2 separate regions of the Homo sapiens genome follow, and region 1 is linked to region 2. A link means that fine-mapping ties the variant in region 2 to the expression of a gene that starts in the linked region. Tissue or cell type: cerebellum. Region 2 holds a variant in brackets; the other region holds the start of a gene. All regions are shown on one strand. Distances are from middle to middle.

What was found. PIP is the estimated chance that this variant, and not a neighbour inherited with it, causes the effect.
Region 1: it holds the start of SIDT1, and the variant in region 2 is fine-mapped to the expression of SIDT1 in cerebellum (GTEx, PIP 0.98).

The regions. Positions count from the first base shown.
Region 1 is chr3:113,528,608-113,536,715 of GRCh38, reverse strand. It overlaps SIDT1 (SID1 transmembrane family member 1), which reads right to left and starts at 4,161. Exons shown (of 25, transcript NM_017699.3): 1 at 3,473-4,161. The coding sequence starts at 3,694. RefSeq lists enhancers at 3,270-3,399, 3,870-4,199, 4,340-4,529, 4,550-4,769 and a silencer at 3,550-3,599.
Region 2 is chr3:113,953,107-113,961,214 of GRCh38, reverse strand. It overlaps ZDHHC23 (zDHHC palmitoyltransferase 23), which reads right to left. Exons shown (of 5, transcript NM_001320466.2): 3 at 6,805-7,515; 4 at 4,709-4,876; 5 at 1-2,852. The coding sequence ends at 2,585. Among named protein-coding and RNA genes, the nearest start is that of ZDHHC23, 9.1 kb to the right of the region's middle. The variant C/T (reference allele first, on the strand shown) is at 4,075.

The DNA.
Region 1 (8,108 bases), 420 kb after region 2:
CTGGAAGGCATATGAGACTTTTCCTGGTGCTGAGTGCAGCTAACTAGTATGACACAAGCTTGGCAAAATAGTTCTCTGGGACAGTTTGGTATGGGAGATGCAGTGGCTGACAGGAAAGATTAGGAGCAATGGCTCCCACAACAGCTTCCTGTCTTTAAGCCTAAACTTAGAATAGACTTTCTCCTCCAAGGCACAGGAAAAATAATGTCAAGCAACAATGGCTTGAAGAAAGAGGAAAACAAAGATTAAAGCTCAAAAACTAGCCATTTTTTTCCCTAAACCAAATTCTTTGTTGCACTGAAGAGGGGAGGTGGGCAATGACCCTGCAGGCTAGAAAGACTTACCTTATCAAGACTTTGTTCAGGTTAAAGGGAAACCAGTCATGTCCAAGCTTCTGCTCTAAAGATCGTAGGTCTGGGGTCATACATCTCTATTTAACAGAGCCTCTTAGTGAGTGTAGGATAAGCAATGATGGCAAAAATTGCACAACATGGGAGAGTAACAAAAATTTAGTGGGTGGGGGTCAGCATTTGAGGAGGTATGAGGGGATGGCCAAGAAGATAGTGACAAACCAGCGCCTGAAAGAGAGCGTCGCTATCTTGAAATCCCCCTGGTGGTAAATTGTCGGAACAGTATGGCCTAGGTTTCTGATTTAATCTATCACCTATCTTGTGCTGTGATGTCATTCCTCTATGTTATTCCAAACCTTCAGTAAAATTCTGCTACATCCAACAGCCTTGTGTACCTGCAAGAAGGGGCTGCTGATATCTTATGCAGGATAAGAAGAACTAAGAAGAGAGTAGGAACCGAAGGTAATGGTTTGGACAGACAGATCAAGAAAATGTCTTCTCTGGAGAAAGCAACAGGAATACTGGCTGGTAGGACAGGAGGTTAATTTCCCACAATAAGTGGCTTTTGAGGGCTCCACTACAGCATTTGCATATTAAAGATTGGTCCCAGAAGGCTGTAAGATTTGAGGACATTTGGCTTATATTGAGAATACTGGCACTAAAATAATTGAAATTCTTGTTATCTCCTGTTCCCATGGTTCCCAACTTTGTATTTCTCAGACTAGTAATATTTTAACAAAAATTCTAGGGACTGCTTGGGTCATCAACCTTTTACTGTGTCATTCAAAAATATTTTCAAAACTGTTTCATAAAATAAAGGACATGTTAACACACACAGACAAAATAGGGCATAATAGAACAATTTTTAAAATGTGTTTTTATAAAAACCAAATTTGTTTTATGAAAGAAATTTGTTTTTATGTTTTTATCTGAAATGATCTCACATTTTCCAAACTATTGAATTGAAAACAGTATACATTTCATTTTATTTAGCCTTAGCTAATAACCCTTTATTCACTTATTTGTTCATTTTTGGAAAACACTAAATGTTTTTTATAAGCCTCTCTTTTCTTTAAAAAAAAAAACATTTTGAAAAAACAGGGTATCACTCTGTCCCCAGTGGGAGTACAGTGGCAAGAGCTCAGCTCACTGCAGCCTCAAATTCCTGGGCTCAAGTGATCCTCCTGCCTCCGCCTCCTAAGTAGCTGGGACTACAGGCGCATGTGCCATCACACCCAGCTAATTTTTTAATTTTTTGTAGAGAGAGGGTCTCATTATGTTTTCCAGGCTGGTCTTGAACTCCTGGTCTCAAGCAATCCTCCCACTTTGTCCTCCAGAGTGCTGGGATTACAGGTGTGAGCCATCATGCCTGGCTTATAAACCTCTTATGTGCCATTCACTGTGCTAGGTACTGGAGGGCAGAGATGAACATGACTTTGCCCCTGCCCTCAATATCTCAAGGTTTACTAGGGAAGTCAACCAGGTGATCTCAAGTGCAAAACTCACACAGTACAAGGGGAAAATGTAAAGGCAACAATTCATAAGTAGATGCTCTATCTCTATGCAGAACTGCAAGAAATACCAAAGCCTGATGTCAGGATTTACTTAGCACATGTAATTTGAGTTTTCTTACCAATGATTTAGGGGGAAGCTGAGACTTACTCCAGAGATCATGGAGTTTTCAGACTTTTTTCTGCTCCCAGCCAATCACAGGACTAGGAACACACCTCACGTGCAACATGTCAACCAGTCGATGAGTTCTCCCACGCTAGATAGAAAGAGGCTGGGTATATGGCGTTTGGGAAACAAAAACTGCAGCCTCTCCCTTGTCTACCATGAAATGGCTCTGCATACAGCCACTCTGCTCACTACAGAACATATAACCTGAAGGTTACTGGAGGACAGAGCAGGGTGAGGGCTGTGCTGCCATGGTAACAGTGCCATAGGATTTGGTGCCACACTGGAGATGGGGCACTCAGGGCACTTTCTGGCTACACACAGCTGGAAGATGTCTAGGAGCAGTGTTAGGCACATTGGTCCCCCCTGCTCAATACAAACCACCCTCACTTTGGGAAGTGATGAGGTTTTCTAGTTCCGATCTGGAGTGAGAATCAGACGGAGGCATATCATGGTATCCCAATCATCTAGTTCTGGAATTTCCCTAGAGGGTAGGGGATGCTGGTATAGTAAGGGATACATAAACACATTTATATGGGAAGAAGATCCAGAGGTTGGTACACTGGGGAGTCTCTGTCTCTGTCTCTGTCTCTCTTTCTCTCTTTCTCTCTCTGTCTCCCTCTCTCTCCCCGCCCAGTGCTCCAGAGGTACCACACTAGAGGAAAGAAATGAACTATATGCATCTTCTTACGTTATATAATCGGAGTATATATGTCAAAGGGATAGTCACTGGAACATTTTTCCCTCCTTATCTTCCCTCAACTTTTGTCAAAAATAGGTCTAGAACTTTCACACAATTATCCATCCTTATTTAAAATCAAAACCTGGATTGATCAGCTGATGGCTGCAGTTCTCACGTCTTTGCCCAGGTCTTCTGGCGTCTCTGAAGCACAACGTGTGACAATGGCACAAAAACGCAGGAAGTGACTGTTGAATGCACAGAGGTTCTGCAGCTTCCGTCCATTTTCACACAATTTCCATTTTAGATTCTGAGCAGTTCTCCCTCCCCATGCGCTATGAAATAGAAGGGTCTGGCTGAATCAGCCACTTGAAATTAGGTTTCTTCCCTGCAGGGGATTAGGAACCGAGGTGCGGTTCTTCTTCGCACTCCACACCACACCCCGCAACCCTAGAAATCAGGACTTTCCTGGAGAAAGACCCAGCAGGGACCCAGGACCCGCAGACGGTGCGGGGAACTGGTGCCTCTGCAAAGCCCAGCAATGCCCTTGACCAGGCCAGGAGAGGCGCGAGGCGAAGCAGAGTTGTCCCCGAGGCGTGTTGAGGCAGCTAGGGCAGGGCAGCGATTGCTTCGGAGGAGAAAGGGAAAGAAAGTCCCCTGGTCCCCGAAGTCTCCCAAGGTCAATTCCCAGGGGACTCCAAAGCAGCGACGGGGCTCTGAGATCTGGCAAGTTCTAGGAGTCGAGCGAGGGGAGCGAGTGTCTTACCTGGTCGGGCTGGCTGGTGTAGTTGAAAGAGTAGATGTTCTCGGTGCTGAGGTTCACCACCCCGCTGTAGACATGATCGAAATCGGCGCCCCTGGCAGCGTCGAAGGGGTCGCGGCGCGGTGCCGGGGGCTGCCTGGGGGATTTCGCCGGGTGCCCGGGCGACGCCGCCAGCAGGAGCCAGGGCAGCGCGCAGAGCAGCGCGAGCCGCAGGCAGCCGCGCATGGTGGGCACCGCGCCCGGGCTCGAAAGCGGAGCCACCCTGGGGAGGGGGCGAGCGCAGAGAGGGTCCTTCCAAAGCCCGGTGCAGGGCCAGGCGTCCGCTTCAGAGCCGAGCGGGTGATGCCTGGCGAACCCAGCCGGCCAGGGCTGGCAGCGTGCTGACGAAGGGCCGATCAAATACTGATGCTGCCGCCTGGGGTCTCCACTGGAGGTCACGGGTGGAGAGTAGGGCGGACTGGAGAAGTGGAGATGTGGGGCTGCTGATTTTCCTCCGGCTTCTAAGTCCCCCGTTTCTCATCGCCGAGAATCCCCCCACTTACCCAGCCAGAATTTAGACCGATCTCTTCTCCCTCAACCTCAATAACAGCAATAATAAAAAGGCATTGGAGTCATTAAAAAGAAATACCCGCTAGTCTCGAAAAGTCAACCTGACGCCACATCGAGGAGGAAATTCGGTCTGTTTCAAATACGTGTGCACCCTGGCTGCAGGAGAAGAAATAGAAAGCAAAAGAGCCCGTCCCCCAAGAGGGTGCGCGAGTTCGCTTTCCCAGGCTGCTACCTGCAGAGAACTCTTGCCTGTCTGAACGATAATTACTCTCTATTCTCCCCTCTCTAATAGAACCTCTCCTCAGACACCTGTTTTATTTCTTTATTACCTCCTACTCTCCATGGAGAGTCTCACGTCATCACGTTCTCTCCCTCACCATATGTGTATGTATGTAAATATGTACAGTTAAAAAAAAAAAGATATGGTAAAGAGAACAATTTCCAGCACTGCCTGAAGTCTGGTCCCGGAAGTTGTCAAAAAACGACTCAGACTAACTAGATTTATGCAGAAGGCATTTCTTTCCACCCCAGCCTCTTACCTACTTTACCATTGCAATGACTTCTTCCAGATTCTGAGAGAAACCCCAGGATTGTTTTTTTAAAGGCAGAAACCACAGCCTATCGTAAAAAGGAAATACTTTTCTGATAAAAATTAGGGGATTAGATTTAAAGAGTTAAAGAGGCAGGTAAGGAGCAGGGTGAGAATGGGGCCATCAGAAGACCTTGCAGAACATTGAACAATCACAATTTACGTGTGGAAGAGAACTCACTGTTTTATTTCAGCTTCATTACTGTATACTATAAAAGAATGTAATTGTGTTCAACCTGAAGGACCATTTAAAAAGAAGTCATTAAGAAGGAAAAGATCTTTTTCAAAAATTTAAGATTACAGATTAAAATCCTAGTCCTTGCCATCTTTAAAGAGATAGATTTGTTTTTGTTTTTACCTTGTCTAATTCCTTTAATTTCTTAAAACATCAAGAATGAATGCAATACATTTGTTGTAAAGTTTTCTGTGAAATCAGAAAACAATGCTGATGGAAGATTAAGTTAGTAGACTCCTTATTAGGACAATTTTCAGTTTTAAAGTTTTGAATGTTCTTGGCCAGGTGCAGTGGCTCATGCCTGTAATCCCAGCACTTTGGGAGGCTGAAGTGGGAGGTGGGCTAGCTTGAGGCCATGTGTTCATGACAAGTCTGGGCAACATGATGAAACCCCATCTCTACAAAAAATACAAAAATAGCTGGGCGTGGTGGTGCATGCCTGTCGTCCTAGCTACTTGGGAGTTGAGTTGGGAGGACTGCTTGAGTCCGGGAGGTCGAGGCTGCAATGAGCCGTGAACACCCCACTGCACCCCAGCTTGGATGACAGAGCAGGACCCTATCTCAAAAGGAAGAAAGGAAGGAAGGAAGAAGGAAGGAAGAAAGGAAGGAAGGAAGGAAGGAAGGAAAGAAAGAAATTTCTTGAAAATATATGGGTATATGGGCAAAAATACTAATTCAAAGGAGAGTCTGGGGGTAAAACTTCAAATAGAACTCACTGTTTTTGAGGAGCATAACGAAATAATTTCATCCAGAATTTGAATGACTTTAAACTGTTGTATTCAAAATATCTGTGCCTCTTTTCAAAGTTCAACAACATTTCATAAACTTGAAATCTACGAAGGTCCTGGAGGTTAGCTGGTGTGACCAGTTAAAGGAGTCTCTAGGATTATGGAGTTCTATTATGGCGTTCTTTTTAAACACTATAAGAGATGAGGAACTGGTTCTTTCACAAGTCAACACCTTCTTTTGGGGGCAAGTGTCTCATTATTAGAAAGACATTTCATATTCTTAGTTGAAATCTGCCTGTCTTCTACTCACTTGTACTAGTTCTGCCCTCTGGAGTCATAGGAATAAACCTAATACTTCTTCCACATGACAGACCTGTGGGTATTTAAATGGTGCTATGACCCTTCCTTCAAGATTTTATCTCAACTTTACGCAACTAAATTGGAAGCAAATGGAACAGATCCTTCATCATAGCATGAAACCCAAAATATTTATTTTAAAGCCATTTGTATGGATTATCTATACCTAACAATTTGAGTTATATATTACAAGTCACTCTGTAATATTATCTAATCCTTATTCTAGCCAAAAGTCATTCAGTGACCTCAAGTAATTAACCTCTCAGGATCACAAGGTTGTTGTAAGGATAAAAGGGAGAATGATGTATTTGAAAGTACATTAAAAAGTTTAAAGTGTTGAATGAACAAATACTGTTATGGTGTGACTGCTAGTTCAATAGCTAAAAAATAAAATGTGGTCCATTAGGTAGGTGGTTTTTTTCTTTATTTTTAAAAGGAATTTTATTTTAAATTTTTGTGGGTACTTAGTAGGTGTATATATGTATGGAGTATATGAGATATTTTGATACAGGCATGCAATGCATAATAATCACATCATGGAAAACGAGATATCCATCACCTCAAGCATTTATCCATAATGTTACAAACAACCCAATTATACTCTTTTAGTGATTTTTAAATTTACAATTAAATTATTATTGACTATAGCCTGTTGTGCAATCAAATACTACACCTTATTCATTCCATTTTTTGGTATCCATTATCCATCCCCACCTTCCTCCCCCAGCTCTCCCACTACCCTTCCCAGCCTCTGGTAACCATCCTTCTACTCTCTTTCTCCATGAGTTCAATTGTTTTGATTTTAAAGGCAGTTTTTTTTTTTTAATATCTACAATGTCAGGATTCTACTGTGAGAGACTAAATATGCAAGTGGGCAATGGCCAGACCATAAATAGCAATACAACTAACTCTGACCCACAGTTTCTGCAGCAATCAGCTCAGGAAACAAAAACACTTTAGCAGCAACCAGTCCAAGAAATCAAACTACAACTGCTGCAGCAAATGGCCCAAAAGAATTAGGTCTTGCTCAATGAGTCAATTTCCCCAATTTTTGCCCCTGCTTCCAACTTAGGATCAATCAGAGAAAGTTAAATATGCTTCCCAAACCACAAAATGCCCTGCTCCTACTTAGCCTGCCTCCAGCTTCCAACAGCAAGATCCAGTCAGAGCATACCTGAAACCTTCCCCTTTTATAACTATGAAGTTTTCTCACTCCCCTTCCTGCCTTTGAGTCTCTACTAAGCAGAAGTGATGGTGGTCAACTCCCTTGCTAGAGCAAGCTCTGAATAATTAGCCTCTGTTTGTTTTCATTTGTGTGAGCTTCACTTGTTTCTGTAGTTTTCTTGAAGTTTCCACAGAGATACTGTCTGCACTGCATGTCACCATGGATCCCAGTTCTCTGCCAGGTGCAGTACCCACCAAGGCTTCTTGTGCCTCACTGCACACAGTTGAGTCTGCATTGACACATTGGGTCAGCACTGGTTCTGAACTCTGCTCTTTGATTTTGAGTTCTTTGGCTATTTAGTCTCACTTTGGTACCTAGGATTTGTTATCACTTCCCATTTGATTGGCATCTTTGGTGGAGTCAGGCTATTCCTTTTCATCTCTGTTTTCTCTCTTTTCTGCTTCTGTTTTGCATTGTGCAATCTGGAAGTGTTGTCATAGAGTAGAACACAGGCATAGGCCCTATAAGCCTTTAATTTGAGCTGTCCTCCCAGACCAATGTAGTTTTCATTTGACTGGCATTCATTTGGACAAACTTTGCTGTGGGTTACCAATAAAACTAGATAAGATTATCCTCTCATCTAGATTTTTGTTCTGAGAATTTGGTTTTGATCCAGAAAGAGCATTCTCTCTGGTGTTATACTTGCCTGGGGAGACACATTGTCAGGTGTGCATTTAGAGGCAACTCATCCTCAAGGTTGGGGGCTCAAGATACAAAGTACACAAGCTTTACTTTTAACTTTTGCCAGCTCTTATGGGACCATTTAAGTCAGATTTTTCCACTCCTACAGGAAAAACTCCTTTTTCCTATATATATATACTTATTCTAATTCTAATTCTAGTGCCCACCTCTCTAAATAGCATAATTTCACCAAAGATTATTTGGGCTTTCAATGGCCATGCTGGGAAACACTGGACTTAAACAATTATCTGAGAAGCACCTTAGAAAAGAAAGAG
Region 2 (8,108 bases):
TGAAATCATGTTCGAGGGGCTTGCTCCTCTGCCCAAGAGACTGCTGATTTATAGGTTCACCGGGCAATCCTCCACTGCCGCCACCACCAAATGCTTCCCTGGGACTGATTCATTCACAGAGGCCTTGTCCTTTCAAAGATTCCACAATAAACTCATCTGGCCCCTGGAGAGAACCAAGGCCTATAATGAAACCCCTCAAATAGTTCCAGATCATAAAAGGCTCCAAAATCCTATAAACCAAAGATGTCACAGAGCCTACAGAACACTGCTCATGGATTAGCCCCTTGTTTGCTGCTCCTTTCGGTACAGACGCCTGGGAAGGCTTTTCCCACACAAGATCACTCATCTTTTGACAGGTTTAAGCATTCTGTCAACTGTCCATCATGGGTTCTCAAGGAACTTAAAACAAGTATCTTCGTGCCAATAAACCTGAATAATACACAGAGTCCCTTCCTATCCATGGGAAGGAAGCGGAGTTGGCTCATCCAAGTAACCCTATTAGAGGTAAGTTGTTAAAAAAAATTGTCATCATTCCTAATTCTCCCAAATTATTTTGGTCTCTTTGTACTACTTATCTTCATCACATCACATTACATTTAGATGTTGTGAACAATTTGGCAAGAAGCTAAAATTACTGACTAATGTTTCTATCAATTTGTATGATCAATGGCTAGATAATCAGAGTTGGCTCTACAGCTGACATTCAAAAGCACGACTACCAATTTCTGCCCACACAGGCTATCCTTGACATTATTACTGTCTCTCTTATGTAAAACCTGTATAGAAAGAAATTTGTTATATCAAATCCAACTTTAATTCTAGATGAATATTCAGCTCTGGGCCAGGGAGAAGGCATCACTGTACAAACCCCAGAGTCTGCTAACATCCCCAGGCACAGAGCCTATCATTCGTTAAACAAACCATCTCTGGGGAAAATGACAACAGCCTGAATAAGAATATGGTGACCATCTTAAGGACAGCTCCAATTAATGGCAACAGTAGGGACGGTGCTGGCTGCAGAGGGTGGAAGTGCAGGAAGTAGCAATATTTCCTCTCAACAAATATAAATCTCTTGCTTAAAGCAGCATGCACAGAATGACTGAAAACGCTGGCAATATTTTCCCTATATTAAGCTATAAGCCAAGGCAAATTTAAGGAGTCATGAATTATCTTTGGGATTGCACAACAGTACATGTTCAAAACTAACATTTCAAAAGGGTATTTTCCTCATCTGAAATTCCCTCATCTTAATTCTATAGTAGAACAACCCATTGTACATAAATATTTAATCTTTTATACATTTTCGGTTTTAAGATATGATTAAAGAAACAACTTGTTATTGTCGGAAGAGCCAGGGAAGAACAGTAATCCATTAATAGTGGAAACCACATATACCCTGTTTCTTCTCTCTTAGTGAGATACTGTTATTTAGGGAGGGGTAATTGAGAATTAATGTGCAAGTTAAGTGGGAAGATGTCACTCAACTCCTCAAAGTTCATACCAGAATAATGTGAATGCCAGAAGGCTGATTTTCACAATTTAGTGCTATAACTGACAGCATTTGAAATACATGAAGAAAATAATCGAGCCCGTGATGTTACTCAGCCTTCCTACCAGAAAAGAGAGTAAAGCATCCCCACAGGAGTGTCTGTTCTCCTCTTCCAGCCACAGTCACAAGTGTGCTAGCACCTTACCTGGTGAAACATGGGAAGAGGAAAAACACATGAATGCCTGTTGGAGTTATTTATAAGAAACCCAAGCAGAATTTATAAAATATAAATAGAAGAACTCATCACCTAAACTCATGGCCACACTACATTACACTAGCAATAATTATCTTTATAACTGTTGTCAACTGTCTTTTCAAGATGAGACAACTTAGCATCAATCCATCTGGTCATCTTCTCTGTTTGAGTAGTTCATGTCTAATAAGAAGGAGAAATTCTCATAACTGTACAACAAGGTATATGCTGAAAACTGATTACCCTAATAATATTGGCTTCAATATTCTAGACTATAAACGTTTTTCTTCCATCATAATATTTTCCTAATACTTTGTATTTCCATGGCTCTTGAGTTGTTTTTTAGTGCTTTCCACATCCATCTTCCCTCACGTGACCCTCATGACGGCTCTGTGAGGTAGCCAGGGCAGGCATCAGTACCCCACTTTGCAGATGACCCTGAGACTTGGGAAAGTGACTCAGCTAGGGGTCACATGGCTATTAAGAATCGAAAGAGGGACTAGAAACTATCCTAATCCAACACTCTTTCCTCCATACTAATGGATGGGAATTGCTTCTATCAATTTGTGCATTAGCAATCCACATCCTTCTCAAGTTCAGGCAACTGAGTCAATTAAAAAGGTGACTGGAAAGGAATGGCTCTACTTTTACTGCCTCAGTATAAAAGTCTCTTAAGTTGTGGCGTCAGAAAAATTAACTTCTTCCCACTCCAGTCTCTAAACCTGAGCATGGCCCTATAATGCCTTTAAGAAACTGGGGATAGAAATGGACACTGAAGTGTAAAATGGAAGGGAGACGGAAGGAGGAGCCATCATCCCTCAGAGAGCCACATAGAAGGCACTTCAGACAATGTCCTCGGCAGGGTGGTGGAATGCACGTGTGCCCAGGGTGGAGAACTGGTGCCAGTTCCGCAGGAAGCCCCTATTGTACTGGCCTGTGTCCACGATGAGCCCGCAGAGGAGCCGGCGCCCAGTCTTCTGTCGGAGGGCCTGCTGGACTTCCCGCTCAGTCACATTGTAGCTGATGTTGATCAGCTGGATCAGGAAGATGTAGGCCATGCCTGCTGTGATGATCACAGAGTACCACACGCAGGTGAAGGACAGAGCCGAGCTAGGAGAGGGAAAAAGGCTGTCAGGGCTGCCGTTTTTGTCAAATTCAGAAAACTGTCATCATTCTCACGTTTTACACATTTTTTTACTTATTACTAAAGACTTTGGCATCTTCCCCAACCCTCCGAACTGGAAGATACTCAGAATGCCAATAACCTGCTTAAGTAGGAGAATGTGTGTGTTTATTCTATAATTACTGGTGCCTATTTTCTAGTATATTACACTAGAATAGCAGGGACTGTTTTTTGCATTTTGTACCCTCCACACACCCAGCACGCTGCCTGACATAACAGCGTTCAACACCTGTTTGTTAAATAAACAAGTAATTCGTAAATTACATCTAACTCATGAGAAAACAAAGGCACCAAGGGACTGCTATAAATGTCTTCTAGGAAGCTGCAGGTGGATGCCGAGGAACAGTGCTAAAGTTACTAATCTCCATTCTTTCCAGTCCAATGCTGAGGAATGAAAAGACGATGGACGACTCCCAACCCCAGCAGCCCTGTGCTTACCTGGATGTAGGAACACCGAGACATTCCAAATTCACCCTCCTAAAGCCCAACACAATCACACAAGGTAGGGAAGCTCCTCTCAGGCTCACTAATGAGACAGGCTGCCAGTTAGCCTCTGCCATTTGATGATTTTCCAACATTCGCAAATTAAGAGTTAGTTAGAAATAAGTTCATTCAGAATCTTCATTTGTAAAAGCTGAAGGGACCTCAAAGACTATTAAATCCAAGGACCTAACCAAAAAGATGAGGTGCTGTGAATCGCCTGCACAGAGCAGGGTGAGAAGCAATGGCAGGACTGTATTCCTCGGTTCCCTCGCCTCCGCACCGAGAGTGCACAGACATGCTGTGCTTCAGGACGGGCCTCACCTGCAGCGTTAGCAGAGAATTTCATTCACATGCTGGAGATACTCTCCACACAGTGAGGAAGGAAACTTAATCTGAGGAAGACCAATCTATTCTAATAATGCCCACAGGTGTCTGGTTCTAGGATGACAATGGGGAGATCTGTCCACAGGCTAATAAAAACAAATGCCACAAAGGGATACTTTGTAAAGAAAGCAAGGATTGTTCTGAAAATGAAGAGTGAGAATAAAGAAAAGGGCCAAACCACAGATACCCCAGAGCACTTATGTCAGAGAGGATGATGAAGGGAAGGGAATAAAGAGCATGGGCAGAGGGGGGCCCCAGCATTCAGGGAGGGGGCGCTGAGGC[C/T]GAAGCGGAAGAATCCCAAATTTTGCCATGGCCTGGAAATCTTCACAATCTATAAAGGGGCCTAAGGAAATTTTGACCTACATATCACAGTAATCATCAGTGGTGATTAAAAAAAGAAAGAAAGTAGAACAGGAAAAACCAAGAGAGGTTAGAAAGAAAAGCAAGGTTATAGAGATGTCGAGCACATCTCAAAAGGGTCGGAAGCAGTAAATTAAGATTGGACTAAAAAACATCAGAAAGCAGCAGTAAAGTGAGAAGGTTTCTGATCGTTATGACAAAATAGGCACATATGTGCCCTGGGGCTGCTAGTTTTTGTTTATTGTTTCTGTTTCACTGTTGCGACTTTTGAGCCTATGAGTGGTCATTTGACTCTGGAAGTCCCTGATTAGGCCTGGTCCTGTTTGTAGAGAACTAGTTCTTCACTTTTTAAAGGTCAACAATCCTTTTAACAGCACCCTTGAAAAACACACATCACCAATGCACAATTTTGCTGGCAATTCCAGGGATACCCAGCATTTCCATAGCCTGGCCTATGTTTTGATTGAGAACTCCTAACCAAGTAGTAATAGTCCCTGTCAATGGCAACACCCATTACTTCCCAGGGGGCCTCCATACTGTGGTACCCACTGCTCACCTGTAATTTGCATAAACTCCAGGACAATAGAAAAGAGCTGTGAAGACACTTCTGTCTCTACAAATGGTGTCCAAGGTCAGTGTGATCCCATACACCGAGGTGAGCAAGAAGATCAAAAGGGCAAGTATAAATGCTTGATGATTTGATTCTCCAACGCAGCTATTTATCCTCAAAACAGCATAGAGAAATAAAAAAGCAAACACATTTTTAAGAGTTCTTGATATAACTTACATAATAAACATGAAAGCTTTATTTTTTTTGAGACGGAGTCTTGCTCTGTAGTTCAGGCTAAAGTGCAATGGCGCGATCTTGGCTCACTGCAACCTCTGCCTCCCGGGTCCCGGTTAAGCAATTCTCCTGCCTCAGCCTCTCAAGTAGCTGGGATTACAGGCACATGCCACCATGCCCAGCTAATTTGTGTATTTTGAGTAGAGATGGGGTTTCACCATGTTGGCCAGGCTGGTCTTGAACTCCTGACCTCATGATCCACCCACCTCAGCCTCCCAAAGTGTTGGGATTACAGGCATGAGCCACTGCGCCCAGCCAAGACAAGGTTTTAAATAGGGAAAATGTAAATTCCAGTTATTAAGAAGTTCTCTTATTTTTCAATTTTAGGGAATTAAAAACTTGCACCCTGAGGAATGCAGTCTTATATTCTCTACTCTTCGCAAAGTGGAATCATATCGTCAGTTTAAGGACAAGACTAAGTATAAAAAGCAGAACCTGGCTAACAAATCTTCCTAAATATCAATATTACCCAGCTATGGAGATCTAACATTGTCCTCACCATGTTAAGGAAAGGGAGATAAATAGAATTATGAAAACTTAAAAATGCTAAATCAGAAGTATTACATAGTATGGGAAAATTCATGTTAAATATATGAAGAGTAATATAAAGATCCAAAGAGGTTAGAAACATAGCGTAGGGGGAAGAACAACTTGATAACATGCAGGCTCTTTGGCAGGTAAAAACAGTTCTGTGTCATGGCCATTTGTGGGGCAGAATGTAGAGGGAGTGCCTTCTACCCACTGCATGCCAGGATGCTCCAGTGGGCACATATCTGCTGTTAGGTGAGCCTTCTGCAAACCAGCATTTGTAAATGGAACACACACGCACACACACACACACACACACACACACACACACGAATAAGTGAAGACACAGAAGTAGAACATCTAAAAATGAAAACACCTGTTTACTTCTAAAGACAAGGACCCAGAAAAGAGCTGCCCTGCACTTGAGCCATGCACTTGAGGCCCACGCCAATGCCTCTCAGCCTTTTCTGCACCCTCACCCTCTCCTGCATCCCCTTCTGAGGAGGAGGTACGCTACAGGACCAGAATCCTAGACACGAAAAGCATTAATTCATTGATCACGACTGCCTGAAGAGCAATAAACTGCAAACATGCTACTTACAGCATTCATATCTGAATTAATTATAGTCCCTTTAGTTTAGATGTATTTAGTGAAGCTGCAACATTATCTTTAAACATTGCACTTCATATTTTACGGAGCCTTATGTACCTTCGTTTGTTACTGGCCAACTGGCAGGTACAAAAGCCCATTTCTCTGCAAATAATCAAATAGAGAGTTTATCTGGTGGGACCTCGATTCAATAATGTTAAGTGGAAATCATCGGTAGCATCAAAAACGATTAAGTATGTATGGCAAGGGGACAAAAGAGTCACCTAAAAATAGGGGTACACTTTCTTGAGCTTTATGTTTAAAAAGGAATAGCACAGGGAAATATGCTTATACTGTTTCTGATCAATTCTTTTTTTAAAAAATCATTCAACTGTAGATATTTCTCTATTAGAAAGGAAAAGATAAATGAGGAGTCATTCAAAAGAAAATTGAGAAAAAAAAAACCCCACAAGTTTTCTGTTATTCTCCTTCAGGAAATGACTGAAGGAACTAAATTTGTGAAACTCGAAAAACTGATGACTAAGTGGGAACATCACAACAACCCACAAATATCTACAAGGTGTAAAGCTGGGAAGGAGAGAAATTTTGGGATAGCACAAGGGAAGATAAAATGTAACTAGAGTTTTACATGAATTTACACTTTCCAAGTCTCCAAATGTTTCCAACATACCAGACACAATGATGATCCATTCTCCTCACACAGATGCCACATATCCGGCAGTGCCATGCCCGGGCTGGTCGCACCAGCTGGCACTTGGCACACCAGTCCTCCTTCGCTTTGGTGGGGCTTCCAGCTGGCATCTTGGAAGAGCCCTTGGGGTCATCCTTTGTTGTGCGATTGTTGAGACTGCCCGACATGTCTGCCCCAGGGAACCCTTTGGTCTTCTCCTGCCCTTTTCTGCTCAGGCACTCCAGCTGGCTGCTGCTTAGAGATCTGTCACCGCTTGCTGGATTGCTGAGGTAGCCTGGATTCTTCTTGGCTCTGTGCAAGGCTAAGAGTATCAGAAATAACCCGCAGGTAAGAACCGCCAGCTGAACGGGACCCACACGCCCTTTGGGGACCACTTCCTGCAGGAACACATAGTACATGTAGCCCAGAGAGAACAGTCCAAGGCTCAGGAAAAACAGGGTCTGTTCTTTCCTTCTGTGAGTGAGGTAGTAGTACCACAGTGCCAGCACAGGAAGGGAGGTCAAAACCACCACCCCCAGGAGGAAATGCCAGGAAGCCACATGAAGGAAGACAGGCAGCAGGACAAGCGGAGGGATGATGCTGATGTTCACTTTTTTGGCTCCCCTAAGCCAAGGAATTCGGAGGCGATCAGAAATTGTATCCATGATTCTTTCACAAGTCTCTGGCTGTAAAGATTTACATGTAATCCATCTATTCAGAAAAAGCACAAAGAGGAGGGACTTCATGTGGGTTTGTTGAATTAAAAGCTACAGAACACTGAATGCCAAACAGTGGGATAAACGATAAAAGCTACCAAAGACCAAGCATTTTACTTCCTTACTACTAAATTAAGCTTTTCAGATTCACATGTCATTTTTTAAAATAGGAACAAGATGTTTAAAAACTTAAAGTCAAGATTATTTCTCCCCTAAACAAATACATAGGTACAGACACATGCTGCAAGTAATGTTTACATCTTATGACCTGTACGGTCATAAGAATCTCAAAACAAATCACAATCTAGTTATGAGGACAACATGGGAATTTAAGAACTATTAGGTAAGTGACAAAGCAGCAATAATCAATAAACTCTTGTGATCAAACATTATAAGGAGTGCTCAGACTAGCATCAATACTTCTGGGTGGAGTCTTCAGAGGGGTCTTTGTGGAAAAGGTGGGATCTGTGCTCAACCTTGATGTCCAGCTAGCATGTGTATGAATAGAGAGGGAGTAAGGAAGGCCTTCCAGTGGAAAGAAATGTGTGCAGCACATACCTGGCATGAGCCCAGGGAGTAGACTAGTCC